Linked DNA regions of Homo sapiens: all the other regions are reported to be linked to region 2. The links are microRNA targets in miRTarBase. Many come from high-throughput screens and were not tested one by one. Region 2 holds a microRNA gene; each other region holds the end of a gene's coding sequence.
What was found. The annotated mature microRNA hsa-miR-6793-3p reads UCCCCAACCCCUGCCCGCAG and lies in region 2 at 1,012-1,031, opposite strand. An mRNA with a match to its seed (bases 2 to 7 or 8) in the 3' UTR can be bound and repressed. Matches are read on the target gene's strand: a 7mer-m8 pairs with bases 2 to 8, a 7mer-A1 pairs with bases 2 to 7 and ends in A, and an 8mer does both.

Region 1 (3,223 bases), not on the chromosome of region 2:
CACTGCAAGCTCCGCCTCCCGGGTCCACGCCATTCTCCTGCCTCAGCCTCTCCGAGTAGCTGGGACTACAGGCGCCCGCCACCACGCCCGGCTAATTTTTTGTATTTTTAGTAGAGACAGGGTTTCACCGTGGTCTTGATCTCCTGACCTCGTGATCTGCCCGCCTTGGCCTCCCAAAGTGCTGGGATTACAAGCGTGAGCCACCACGCCCAGCCACTTGAAGATTTTTCTTGTTTTTGATCACCTTCTCATACTGGCCTTACTCAGCTTAGTAGAGTAAGCACTGAATTGGGTAAGGTAACCTCACTTCCTAACATGTCAGCTTCTTATCTTTTCTTCCTTTACCTAGGTGAGAAGAAATTTGCCTGCCCTGAGTGTCCTAAGCGCTTCATGAGGAGTGACCACCTGTCAAAACATATCAAGACCCACCAGAATAAGAAGGGAGGCCCAGGTGTAGCTCTGAGTGTGGGCACTTTGCCCCTGGACAGTGGGGCAGGTTCAGAAGGCAGTGGCACTGCCACTCCTTCAGCCCTTATTACCACCAATATGGTAGCCATGGAGGCCATCTGTCCAGAGGGCATTGCCCGTCTTGCCAACAGTGGCATCAACGTCATGCAGGTGGCAGATCTGCAGTCCATTAATATCAGTGGCAATGGCTTCTGAGATCAGGCACCCGGGGCCAGAGACATATGGGCCATACCCCTTAACCCCGGGATGCAAGGTAGCATGGGTCCAAGAGACATGGAAGAGAGAGCCATGAAGCATTAAAATGCATGGTGTTGAGAAGAATCAGGAGAGGGATACAAGAGAGGAGATGGGGTCCCGGCACCCATCTGTATCATCAGTGCCTCTTTGAAGGTGGGAAACATTAGTGAAAATTCTGTTGGTGCCACGCTTTGATGAGCATTTGTTTGACCCCAGTTTCTTCTTACACTTCTTACCCCAGCCTACCCTTCCTGCATTTCTCTTCTCAGCTCTTCCATGATGGATTCCCCCCCCTTTCCTAAAGCCATCATGCCTTGATAAATATATATGATCATTGAAATACTTTTTAACAAAAAACAGATTCTATATTATTATATATATATATATATATATAAAGATATATAGAGATGCATTCACAGGGGTTGGCTGGGAGGAGGAAGACCATTCTGTGACCAAAATACCTTGGTCATTTTTTTTATATTGCCTTATTTCCCTATGGCTGAGCCTTGTTGTGACACATCAAGCTTTTCTGTAGATGTTGTCTTGGCTTCCCACCAGCTTAAGCGTTCATATGCTCTGCTTTTAGTTCATATATACATACATAATGTTTTTCCTTTCTTAATTTTGTCTTTTTGTTTGGGATCAGCTTCTTGCACTCCTTCCCTAACTCAACTGTTGCCGTCTCATCTTCTCTCATCTGATCACTTCATGTTTTGTTTTTGTTACTGCCTGGATGAGGCACTTCTGTCAATTTTTTCAGGACCTTAGTTCCAGCAGCAGAATGGAAAAATCCTTGAAGCCCAGGCTGATGCTTGAAGTAACTGTGGAGGGAGTGTTCAAAATACTACTGACGCAGGCACCTTCTTGGCGCTGGAGAGTCAAAGGCATCTCCCTTCATTAGCTGCTCTGAGCATCAAGAATTAGAAGTCTTTCAGTGGAATTGTACAAGAGTCCCTTTGAAGATAATAATCTTGGCTCAGTTTGTATAAACTGTCAAATTTTCAAATAATAGGTAGGGGGCTTTCACTAGGAAAATCATGTGCTCAGAAGAGGAAATGACTCGTAGTCAGGTTCAGGAGTTAGTGGAGTATTTGGACTTTGGTACTGCTGTCTTCCAAGGTAGCTCTAAGTTTTGATGTGTGGGCTTCTGAGTTTATATTCTGAAAGGAAATACACTTCTTTTGAACATCCCCACTAGGTTCTTTTCCATTGTCAATAAGGAGCATCAGCCAGTGAATCTGTTTCAGGTTTCCATTCTGCAGAACTCCTCCAAAGCATGTGCTAGTGGCAAGACAGTGGTTCTTATGATGTTTTCCCTTAACTTTTCCTTGTATGTTCTTGGGTGGTTCCTAAGGGAAAGGGAAGCACATGATCATGGGAATGATAGCCCAGAACAAAAAGAAATCTTGTCTTACCACAGTGTTTTATAGGAGAGATTGGGAGAAATCATCCTGTTTTCTCTGTGACCTGATTTCAGAAGAGACTGATCCAAAAATTATAACGGCAGGGAACCTAGTGCATTTGGCACTGAGATTTAAATGCAACCAGAATTGTCCTCAAGGCCCAGCCATAAAAGCATTGTCTCTCTCGACCTTCTGGTATCTTGTTAGAGAGCTTTTCACTGTGAGGAAGTGTGGAAAAATAGCTCTGTGTGTGTGTGTGTGTGTGTGTGTGTGTGTGTGTGTAATCTGTTAGGTTGGGGATAGGTTTTCTGCTAGCCAATATTAAAAGAGACCTGCAATAAAAAAATTACCCTGATCTGATAGAAAGCAAGTGTTTTTGTATGTGTGGGTGAATGTGTGTTCATGCCCGTATATGTCTACACACAGATGACAAATTATATTTGAAATCGTTGGAAAATAAATTCAGATCAAAATGCCTTTCAGGCCCATTACCTAGAAATCTATCTTAAAACCTGGGTATGTTCCTAAGGTCATTTCTTTGCTTATGCTAAATTAATTACAATTATGAATGGAGGATATTCTACTGTACTTTTTTAAAAAGAAACTATTTTTGTGTTTGAAAGTGAAACCAACATCCAGATCTATAGCAGAGTCCTTATTCTTCTCATAAATCTTTTTACTTTGGCTACAAATAGATGATGGTATGATTCTATTATATATTTTATATAAAATCCATCCAAATTAAGTTTTGGGTAAGTGTGTTGTTTAATCTGAACTATAGTAACTTAATACTCTAAACAATAGTTCACTCCATTTGGTCCTTTCTCCACAGATGTAATTATGTTTTCAACTCAGGAACTATGGCAAGGAACTTTCCCCAGATCAAATTCTATTAACGCTGAGATACAAGTCATCCATGCACAGCCACTATCATACCCTTTATTCTCACTGAAAGGCAGAACTCAGAACCTGTTATTTTATGTCTGTAATCATGTACTTTGGCATCTTTTGGAGGAAAGGGGCAGGATAACTCACTGGAATGTACAGTATTTTGCTAGTGCATTTCAAGGAATGGAATCTTCTCCAGTATGAAATTACCAGATATAAAATAATGT
Region 2 (3,000 bases):
GAGGTGGGGGCTGGCTATGGGGACAGCGCAGGCGCAGTGGGATCCTCCCACCCCAACCTGAGCGCCAGTCCCACCTTCCCTTGCCCTCGGCCCCCTCAGGCACTTCCCACTCACAGGGCCCCCTCAGGCCTTGGGCCTGGGATCCACCCTCACAGCCAAAGACACTTCCAGAGTCCTCCAGATCAAGCCCTAATATCTCTAGGGGCCGTGGAACCTGCAAGCCCTGTCCAGACATCCAGATTCCCTCCTGGGCCTCAGTCCCTGCCACCTGCAGGCCTGGGTGCGATATCCTCCCCTTAAGGAACTCCATGGCTCCCCCAGGGCTCTGCAAGGCAGCCCCCTCTGAGGTTCCCTGCCCGACGGCCTCAATGGACAACTCAGGGGCGGCAGCAGCTCTGGCCACGCCTTGCGTTTGCCCCTCCAGAGCCTCCCATCTGCCCTTCTCTGTGCTCCAGGAGGCTCATCTCTCTCCTGTGGCTGCTGCCCCTCCAGCCTCTTACCCCAGCTTCCATTTGGGCTGTGCCAATGGAAGGCACCAGCAGAGGGCAGGCGGGGTATTTATTCACAGGGTCCTGCCCTAGAGCTGTAGGGCTGGCTCGCCCCCATACCCCTTCTCTCCCTCCTCCGGCCTCAGCAGGGCAGCAGCTCCCACAGTGCCCAGCCCTGGGTGCCACCCTTGGGCTGTGTCCTGTTTCCTGCCAGGACCCTGCAGGACACACAGGGAGGGCAGGAACCTGCAGGCCGAATGCTTGAGGGTAGGGGAACCAGGCTTCCGGACCTGTGGCTGCTGGCGCTCTGGAGCCAGGTGTCATCGACAGGCGGGGGTACAGGCGTGGACACAGTGCTGGTGCTGATGTCACCGATGATGTTGAGCGCCTCCTTGAGGGCATGGTACATGCGCAGCATGTCGTCCCGCCGCTGTGCCTGGTCAGCCGACTCCTCCATGAGGCTGCTCTGGTCTGCCGAGGAGTATAGGTAGGCCAGCAGCTCGTGGTGGATGAAGGCCTTCGTCTGCGGGCAGGGGTTGGGGAGGGTCAGGCTTGTGTATCACCCCAACCCAGAACCCACAGTGACTGCTGGAAAAACATCTCTCACAGGGCGGGGCCACCCCCAGACTTTTTTGAAAAAGAGTCTTGCTCTGTCACCCAGGCTGGAGTACAGTGGCTCAATTTCAGCTCACTGCAACCTCCGCCTCCCGGGTTCAAGTAATTATCCTGCCTCAGCCTCCCAAGTAGCTAGGACGACAGGCACGTTGACACCATGCTTGGCTAAGTTTTGTAATTTTTTTAGAGATAGGGTTCCACCATGTGGCCCAGGCTGGTTATGAGATTCTTATTCAACTTATTTCTAGTATCTTGCCTCTTCCATTGATGTCTTTTCTCCTGTTTTAGCTTATTTATTTATTTCCTTAACCTTGGCAGAATAATCCTGTTATATCTTTTTTGTTTTTGCTTTTTTTTTTTTGAGACAGTCTCACTGTCGCCCAGGTTGGAGTGCAGTGGTGCAATCTCAGCTCACTGCAACCTCCGCCTCCCGGGTTTATGCCATTCTCCTGCCTCAGTCTCCCAAGTAGCTGGGACTACAGGCGCCTGCCACCACGCCCAGCTTATTTTTTGTATTTTTAGTAGAGACAGGGTTTCACCCTGTTAGCCAGGATGGTCTCGATCTCCTGACCTTATGATCCGCCTGCCTCAGCCTCCCAAAGTGCTGGGATTACAGGCGTGAGCCACCGCGCCCAGCCAATCCTGTTATATCTTTATTTTTTTGTGACAGAGTCTCACTCTGTCACCCAGGCTGCAGTGCAATCTTGGCTCACTGCAACCTGCGTCTCCTGGGTCCAAGCAATTCTTGTGCCTCAACCTCCCAAGTAGCTGGGACTACAGGCGTGCCCCCCAACCCCCGGCTAATTTTTGTATTTTTAGCAGAGATGGGGTTTCACCATATTGGCCAGGCTGGTCTTTAACTCCTGACCTCAGGTGATCCACCCGCCTTGGCCTCCCAAAGTGCTGGGATTACAGGCGTGAGTGAGCCACTGCGCCCGGCTAATCCTGTTACATCTTCCACCTGGCTTCTGTTCAAACACTACTAGTTTCTGTTCATGAATTTTATACATTGTCCTTTCTGGAACCTCCTACTGGATACAGAAGTTTTTCAGTTACTTTTTTTTTTCTTTTTTTTTGAGACAGAGTCTCCCTCTGTCACCAGGCTGGAGTACAGTGGCATGATCTCCGCTCATTGCAAACTCCACCTCCTAGGTTCAAGTGATTCTCCTGCCTCAGCCTCCAGAGTAGCTGGGACTACAGACGCGTGCCACCACGCCCAGCTAATTTTTGTATTTTTAGTAGAGGGGGGTTTCAGCATGTTGGCCAGGATGGTCTCAGTCTCTTGACCTCGTGATGTGCCCGCCTCAGCCTCCCAAAGTGCTGGGATTACAGGCATGAGCCACCACACCTGGCCGTCACAACTTTTTTTTTTTTTAGATAGGGTCTCACTCCTATCACTCAGGCTGGAATGCAGTGGAGCGATCTTTGCTCACCGCAGCCTCGATCTCCTGGGCTCAAGTGATCTTCCTGCCTCAGCTTCCCGAGTAGCTGGGCCGACAGATTTATTATTTTCTTAAATAATAAAATATTTTTATTTTATAAGAGTCTATTAAAAATGGATAATTATGTCCCATCTTTGGCTGCTATAAAACATCATGGAAAACAATAAGCATGTATAAGCTCACTTTGCACGTGGGCAATTGTCTCTCTTAGAGAAGTTCCTAAAAGTAAACTTGCAGGGTCAAAGGATATATGCATTTTAAATTTCATAGCAGAAGAACCGTATATGTCTCCGATCCTATCGGTATATGAGGAAACATACCAGGACACCATGAAACTGTGAACACTGATCACTACTGAGAATGGGAGCAACAGGGTGGGAGGGCATGGCACGTGGGAGGTGTGTGTGTGTTTTAAATAGGGATGGGGTCTCACTATGTTGTCCAGGCTGGTCTTG
Region 3 (3,223 bases), not on the chromosome of region 2:
ACATTTGACATGTTCATCTTCTAAAACAGCAAGAGAAGACTTAGAATCAGTGGTGAAGAAATTATTCACTCCGTATACTGAAACAGAAATAAACGAGGAAGAACTTACAAAGCCAAGACTCTTGTGGGCTCTTTATTTTAATATGAGAGATTCCTCGGGAATCAGCAGAAGCTCGTATAATGGCTTGCCTTCCAATGTTTATGTCTGCTCTGGGCCTGACTGTGGCCTGGGAAATGAGCATGCTGTCAAGCAAGCTGAAACACTTTTCCAGGAGATCTTTCCAACTGAAGAATTCTGCCCTCCACCTCCAAATCCAGAAGACATTATCTTTGATGGTGATGATAAGCAGCCAGAGGCTCCTGGAACCAATAATGTAGTAATGGCCAAACTAGAATCCTCTGAGGAAAGCAAAAACCTAGAAAGCCCAGAGAAGCACCTTCAAAATTAGAAAAGAGCAATCTCGAAATGCTGTTTTGGACCTCCTTCATGGCATCAGAATTTTCTCATTTAAAGGACAGTTTCCCATATGAGTAATTAGAAGTGGTTATATATGATGAATGCTATGCAGATGTTGTCTTTAACTCTCAGACATTCAGCATTGAATATCTTTGTTAACCTATCAATGAGTGATTTATTGATTATTGAACATTTTGTTTAGAATGGGCTATATGACCCAGAATCTTAAAACAGAGTTAGCTTTATTTTAGTATTGGGTATATATGTAAGGGTTCCATATTAGCAACTCAGCTTAAAGGTAATGTATTTGCTAATGATCTTCAGATTTTATCTTTGTCTACAGAACAATTAGTAATACCCAAGTAATATTTTAATTACTTTTGCAGCTGTTACAGTTGCTGCGGCCTGTTCGAATAGTGAAACATACACAAATGGTAAATTATGTGGATCTTTTGCATATAATATAAATGTATAGACATGGTGGTAGGAATAGCAACTAATACAAATGCCAATATGATAATAAAATACATTTGTCTATAATCGTTTAAAGATTAGCTTTGCATGATCCTTTATGCACTGTGAAGGTCTGAAGTTTATAATACTCACTTGACCCTTGTAACTGATGAGGCAATGATGCCACCACAGTATTCTAATTTACAAAAAGAATTGGAGTTCAATTAGTGGTTGTAAAGCTCATTTTGGGGAGGTTGATTGCAAAGGAAATTTGAAAGATAAGATTTATTCTTATTTAATACTTCAGAAAATTTCTGCAGAGCCCTGCCCTGGCACTTAAAATAGCTTCCAATAAGTAACTTAGACCAAAAGGAAAAATGAAGTGCCCCAGGAGAAGATACTTCAGAAGGGCTGTTCTGAAATTCCTAAGGAGGAATTCTTAGGAATTCCTAAGGAGAAACAGAGTGAGGCCTTTTTAACCTGAGATTACAGATACTTATAAAACCCTCTATAAATAGATTACCCAAGGTTTTTCAGTGAGAATGAAACATACCACCTTGTTGGCTCTACCACTTTAATTAATATCACTATAACATAACTGATAGGAATGAATCAAAGGAGGATTTACCATGCCCTTTCGGTTGTGTCCCACTTAACAAATTGTGAAGTAACAATTTTCTGTAATCTCTCTTGCCTCTTAGCTGTTATCCAGAGTATAGAAACTTTTTTTCTCCCAGAGCCACCCAACGTCATAAAACTGGTAGTACTCTAATGGTGAAAACCTGTGGAGCTGTCAGAAGACATGAACTTGCTTTTCCTCTAGTCCAGTTTCCATTCTTCAGTCAGAGTATGATGATCCCTGTGACAGTTTTTGCTCTGAAATAGTATTTATCATGTGTTTGGTACCTAGTATTATGCTTTCTCATGACAGTTTCTCAACAATCCTGTGAGGCAAATTCGCATGTACCCTCTGTATTAGTGTGTTCTCATGCTGTTGATAAAGACACACCTGAGATGGTAATTTGTAAAGAAAAAGGTTTAATGGACTCACAGTTCCATGTGGCTGGGGAGGCCTCACAATCATGGTGGAAGGTGAAAGGCACGTCTTACATGGCGGTGGACAAGAGAGAATGAGAACTAAGTGAAAAGGGAAACCCTTTTAAAACCATCAGATATCGTGAGACTTATTTACTACCATGAGAACAGTATGGGGGAAACAACTCCATGATTCAGTTATCTCCCACCAGGTTCCTCCCACAACACGTGGGAATTATAGGAGCTACAATTCAAGATGAGATTTGAGTGGGAACACAGCCAAACCATATCACCTTCAAAGAAGAAATAAGAGAATTATTAGTAATTTGCTCAGAATCTGGTATGTGGAAGAGCCAACATGGGGACCCAGCCTTTTGTGATTCTAAAACCTTTGATCTTTCTACTAACATTCACTGTTAGAGAGTGTAGGCGCTGCAGGAGAAAGAGAAAGTGCCCACGAAAATTAGTCTAGCATTGCCGGGGGTAAAAAGCACACACTGGTCCTGCAGCTTATTGAATCAGAGAAATGTGAAGATAAGATGAACTAAACAAACATATTTTAGAGCATGGATCTCGAAGCAGAATTTGGCTAAATTTTAACAAAATGTTCTTCAGTAACACATCTCATGATCTGAAGATTGTGTTACAAAAAATATTATCAGGCCAAAATTTGTTCGGAATACACTAATTTTTGCTCCTCTATATGTGAGGAAAATGAGACTAGACAGATTTAAGTAATTGACAACTTACTTAAAGTAGCAAAGTCATGGATTGTATTGACTTTTAAAAATATAGTAAAAGTCATATTTAAACTTTATCCTAAAGTTTAAATCTAACAGAACAACTGAAATACTTGAAATAGACCTATAAAATAGTAATTAAAATGAGAAATACATAAGATGATAAATAAAATGAAGGTGAAGGTATTCCAGATCTACCGAAAAGATTTTCAGTATCACAGATTATTCATAAGAAATTGAGAAAAGGAACAATCAGAAGTTGCAAAAGATGGTATAGCCGAATATAATGGAAATAGGAAAAATTAGTCGAAAATAAAGGTTGATTTAGAAATGAAGAAAATGAATATATTTCTTAATACAAAATAAGTGGGAAATGAGAAGTTATACCAATAAAAAGCATTTAAAAATTTAGGGGATATTGTAACCCAGTATAATTTTCTGACAGGTTGGACTTTGACCCTAATGGACTTACTGGTGAACTTTTTCAAATGTTTAAATAATGTCTATCCATGTATCATGAAGGACAGTATGCTTCAAAT
Region 4 (3,223 bases), not on the chromosome of region 2:
TGTTCAGCATCTACCCTGAATTTTATTCCCTTTTCTGAGTTTCTAAAAGTTTGCAGTCATAGTTTCACATTTGCATTTTTTAAAAGGTGAATCTTCTGAAATTAGACTTCCTGAAGTTACAGATAATGTGTCACTAATTATGGCAAATGTTCTTTCCATGCTTTGAAATGCCAGGAAGACTTGGGTGTTGTAACTGATTAGGAATCAAGCCGGAGCACAGGAAATGCTGTCCAGCGTGTAGTGGCTAGATTGGGCTATGAGGTACAGGGACAGTTCGTATGGTTGCAGTGGACAGATGGTGTAAAAGGAAAGTCTATGCAACACAGCTACTGGAGAAGAAAGATAAATCCAAATTATTGCATGCAATTTAAATTCACTCTAAAGAGACAGCAAACTTTTTTTTTCCTTTAGGAAAGCTTAGAGAAACCAAAATTAGAATACAATTTCCAAAACTGCTTTGCAAAAAACAAAAAAAACTTGTCCCACTTATGGAATTTGTCATCTACTCTGTATTATCTGAGACTTGGCACATTCAAGAACAAAATCATCACATCTCTGATTCACATAGCAATGAAAGATCACACACTAAACACCTTAACAGGCCATGAAAAGATTGTTTTATTCCATGTAAATATTCTCAACAGAGAACACTATCTTTAAATGAAGGATTTACCATTAAGAAATCAACATGTGCACAAAAAGAGTAAAAATTACCAAAAAATTAAAGATTTTTTGGGACAATTCACATGTTCAAAATTTAAGAATGATTTAAACTGTGCAAGTACAAATGTCTTTCCTATTATAATAACCCATATACAGGTTGCACTATTCCACATCAAGGAACTTGCCTCCTACGGAAGCAAATCCTGCTTTTAGAAAAACAAACAGTAGCTTGAAAAGAACAGTTAGTCCTTACAAGAAAGTCTTAAACTTTGCCCTCTGTGGCTGTTAGCCAAAAAACCATAAGCACTTCAGGCTTTGTACAGAAGACAAACACAGCCAGATCACATTTCCTCCTCATTGCTAACCTTTAAAATAAAAATAGCACTAGATTTTAAAACTACTTCATGTAGTCTGTCAGTACTGAATAATGTCACATTATATAAATAACCCTGTAACGAGATTCAATATCTAAACTTTATAGTTTACTAGCTGCAAAGGTAATACACTATATGTCAGCTGTGTAACAGTGGTGACTTGATCTTATGAAGGCAGTAACTTTCACACAATTGTCATTCAGCTTTAGTATAACGGGTAGTATGATTCAAATAACACTGGGAAAAAGTTATTAAAGCAGTCACACAGCTTCTAAAATATTGCTTAAAATTCAATAATACACAAACCATTTCACGTTCTTTCTCCCCTCAAAACAGTAAAGAACCAAATTAATGAAGATTCAGTGGTACAAATAACCCCCCACCTGCCCCATCTCCCTATTACAACACCACTAAGAAATTAGTTAAGATACATGTCATTAACAGAATCACAAATGCGAGGCAGGACACCATGAGCAACAGGAGCACTAACAACAATCATATTTACAAGTATAAACATACAGAAATTCCATTTTACAAGTAAAAGTGCACATAGATCATTACAAAGTTTCACTAAATTTTATCAGGTTCAAACAAAAGCATCACGTGGAAAGAGACTATCATTGTAATTATCAAACATGATCGTCATAACCCAAAATAAAAAGACAATTGGGGGAGGCCCATAAAACTTCTCATAAAACCACTGAGGAAATTAAAATGGACTTGGACATGTCTTTAGTTTGATGCATAAATTTGAAGATGCACCACTGTATATGGTAGAGCTCTAATAGCCACCTACCGAGGCTACATCGGCAGCTGCAGCGGTGCTGCAGAGTTAAAGCAGGTCGCACTGAGCTGACACATAAAGCCCTTTGTGGGATACTGTAGTGGTAGTGTTGGCAATCAACAGATTTAGGCACTCAAGTTTAAGGCAGCATTTGAATGGAAGCAGCTGACTTTTGACAATAGTCCTTTGTCTTGAGGTGGTGAATATCTTCTGTGTTTATTATGCCAGGATTTCAGTGCTGACTAGATTCTTCCCAGACTGAGGTGCTGAAGATGTATCACGTTTCAAAGAGTTCTTTCAACTGGGCTGTAGGCTACAGCAGAGATGTTTTCTTTTTCTTATCATAAATACTTCAGGTTCACAGCTACTTCTTCGTAATGCCAAAACTGGAATGTTTGCAGTGGGGAAGTTATAGCAGTGTGCACAAATACTAAGATGGAAACATTAGTGCTGGAGATGTTTGACAAAGTGATTTGCACTACAAATGTAAAACAAAACAAGGCTTTGACAAGAACAAGGGAATCTAAAGACATGCCTGAAAAATCTAGCTCAATCACGCTAGACATGCAACAGGATGTTAAGCAAGCACGGAGGTGGCGCAGGCAGACACTGACAGATGGCAAGGATCTGACAGATAGTGGGTCTAAAAGCCAATTAAAACAGAGCTGGGAGGGAAGACAATCCTGTTGGGACAGCTAATGTAAGACACATTTTTTGACAGCTCTGCATTCTTTATTGATTAGACAGCAATAAAATAAATAGAAAAATGGTACACTATTGTTGGCTTTTTCTTTTGTGGGAATAACTGTGAACTAGGAACTTAAGGGTTGGTATTATGATTTTTAAAAACAATGTATGGAAATGCTAATGAAGTTAGTAAAAAAAAAATCATGTCTGCATGCACTCATGCAACTTGCTTCTCTCACTCTCTTTGAGCCTGACAACTCTAATACCCTCCCCCAAAAGCAGCTGCATGTAACCTCCTTCAACATCTTGCCCATTTCCTCAGAAACCCTCTTCAGGAACCTGCAGTCCAGGAGGAAAAAGAAAAGAACAATTACTGAAGACCTTTGGTAAAACCAAAAGGGGTGTTCAGTTTAAAGTGCCTGTCCCAAATGTCTCTATCATTTTATAGTCAGCTACCGAAAACACCAGGAAAATTTAAAACATGGGCAAAATTAAAAACCAATCTTACTGCTTCTTCACACTTTACTTCCCCACACCACTGACTCAGGGTGTGGTCACACAACCAGCACTGCACAATCCTTGACTGCACAGTGTTTCCAACAACGCTTGCTGAAACTAATTGGAAAAATTTATCTATCCTAATAACTAATGATTCAGCGGAAATAACAAAATGCCCTAAAGGCGGTACACATATCTTCCTCTAACCCAGATAGTC

Region 1: the mRNA of SP1 is a reported target of hsa-miR-6793-3p. Seed matches in the 3' UTR shown: 8mer at 2,401-2,408.
Region 3: the mRNA of CHML is a reported target of hsa-miR-6793-3p. Seed matches in the 3' UTR shown: 7mer-A1 at 1,155-1,161.
Region 4: miRTarBase lists FNBP1L as a target of hsa-miR-6793-3p. The part of its 3' UTR that is shown has no 7-base or 8-base seed match.

Annotation. Positions count from the first base shown.
Region 1 is chr12:53,410,578-53,413,800 of GRCh38, forward strand. SP1 (Sp1 transcription factor) reads left to right here. Exons shown (of 6, transcript NM_138473.3): 6 at 350-3,223. The coding sequence ends at 663. Among named protein-coding and RNA genes, the nearest start is that of AMHR2, 12 kb to the right of the region's middle.
Region 2 is chr19:10,827,047-10,830,046 of GRCh38, reverse strand. MIR6793 (microRNA 6793) reads right to left here and starts at 1,074; the gene lies at 1,012-1,074. It overlaps DNM2 (dynamin 2), which reads right to left. Exons shown (of 21, transcript NM_001005361.3): 19 at 779-1,011.
Region 3 is chr1:241,631,021-241,634,243 of GRCh38, reverse strand. CHML (CHM like Rab escort protein) reads left to right here. Exons shown (of 2, transcript NM_001381853.1): 2 at 1-3,223. The coding sequence ends at 448. The region is part of intron 1 of OPN3 (opsin 3); the gene reads left to right. Among named protein-coding and RNA genes, the nearest start is that of CHML, 7.7 kb to the left of the region's middle.
Region 4 is chr1:93,552,033-93,555,255 of GRCh38, reverse strand. It overlaps FNBP1L (formin binding protein 1 like), which reads right to left. Exons shown (of 17, transcript NM_001164473.3): 17 at 595-2,847. The coding sequence ends at 2,840. Among named protein-coding and RNA genes, the nearest start is that of TRC-GCA7-1, 37 kb to the right of the region's middle. RefSeq lists an enhancer at 1,714-2,242 and a silencer at 2,290-2,584.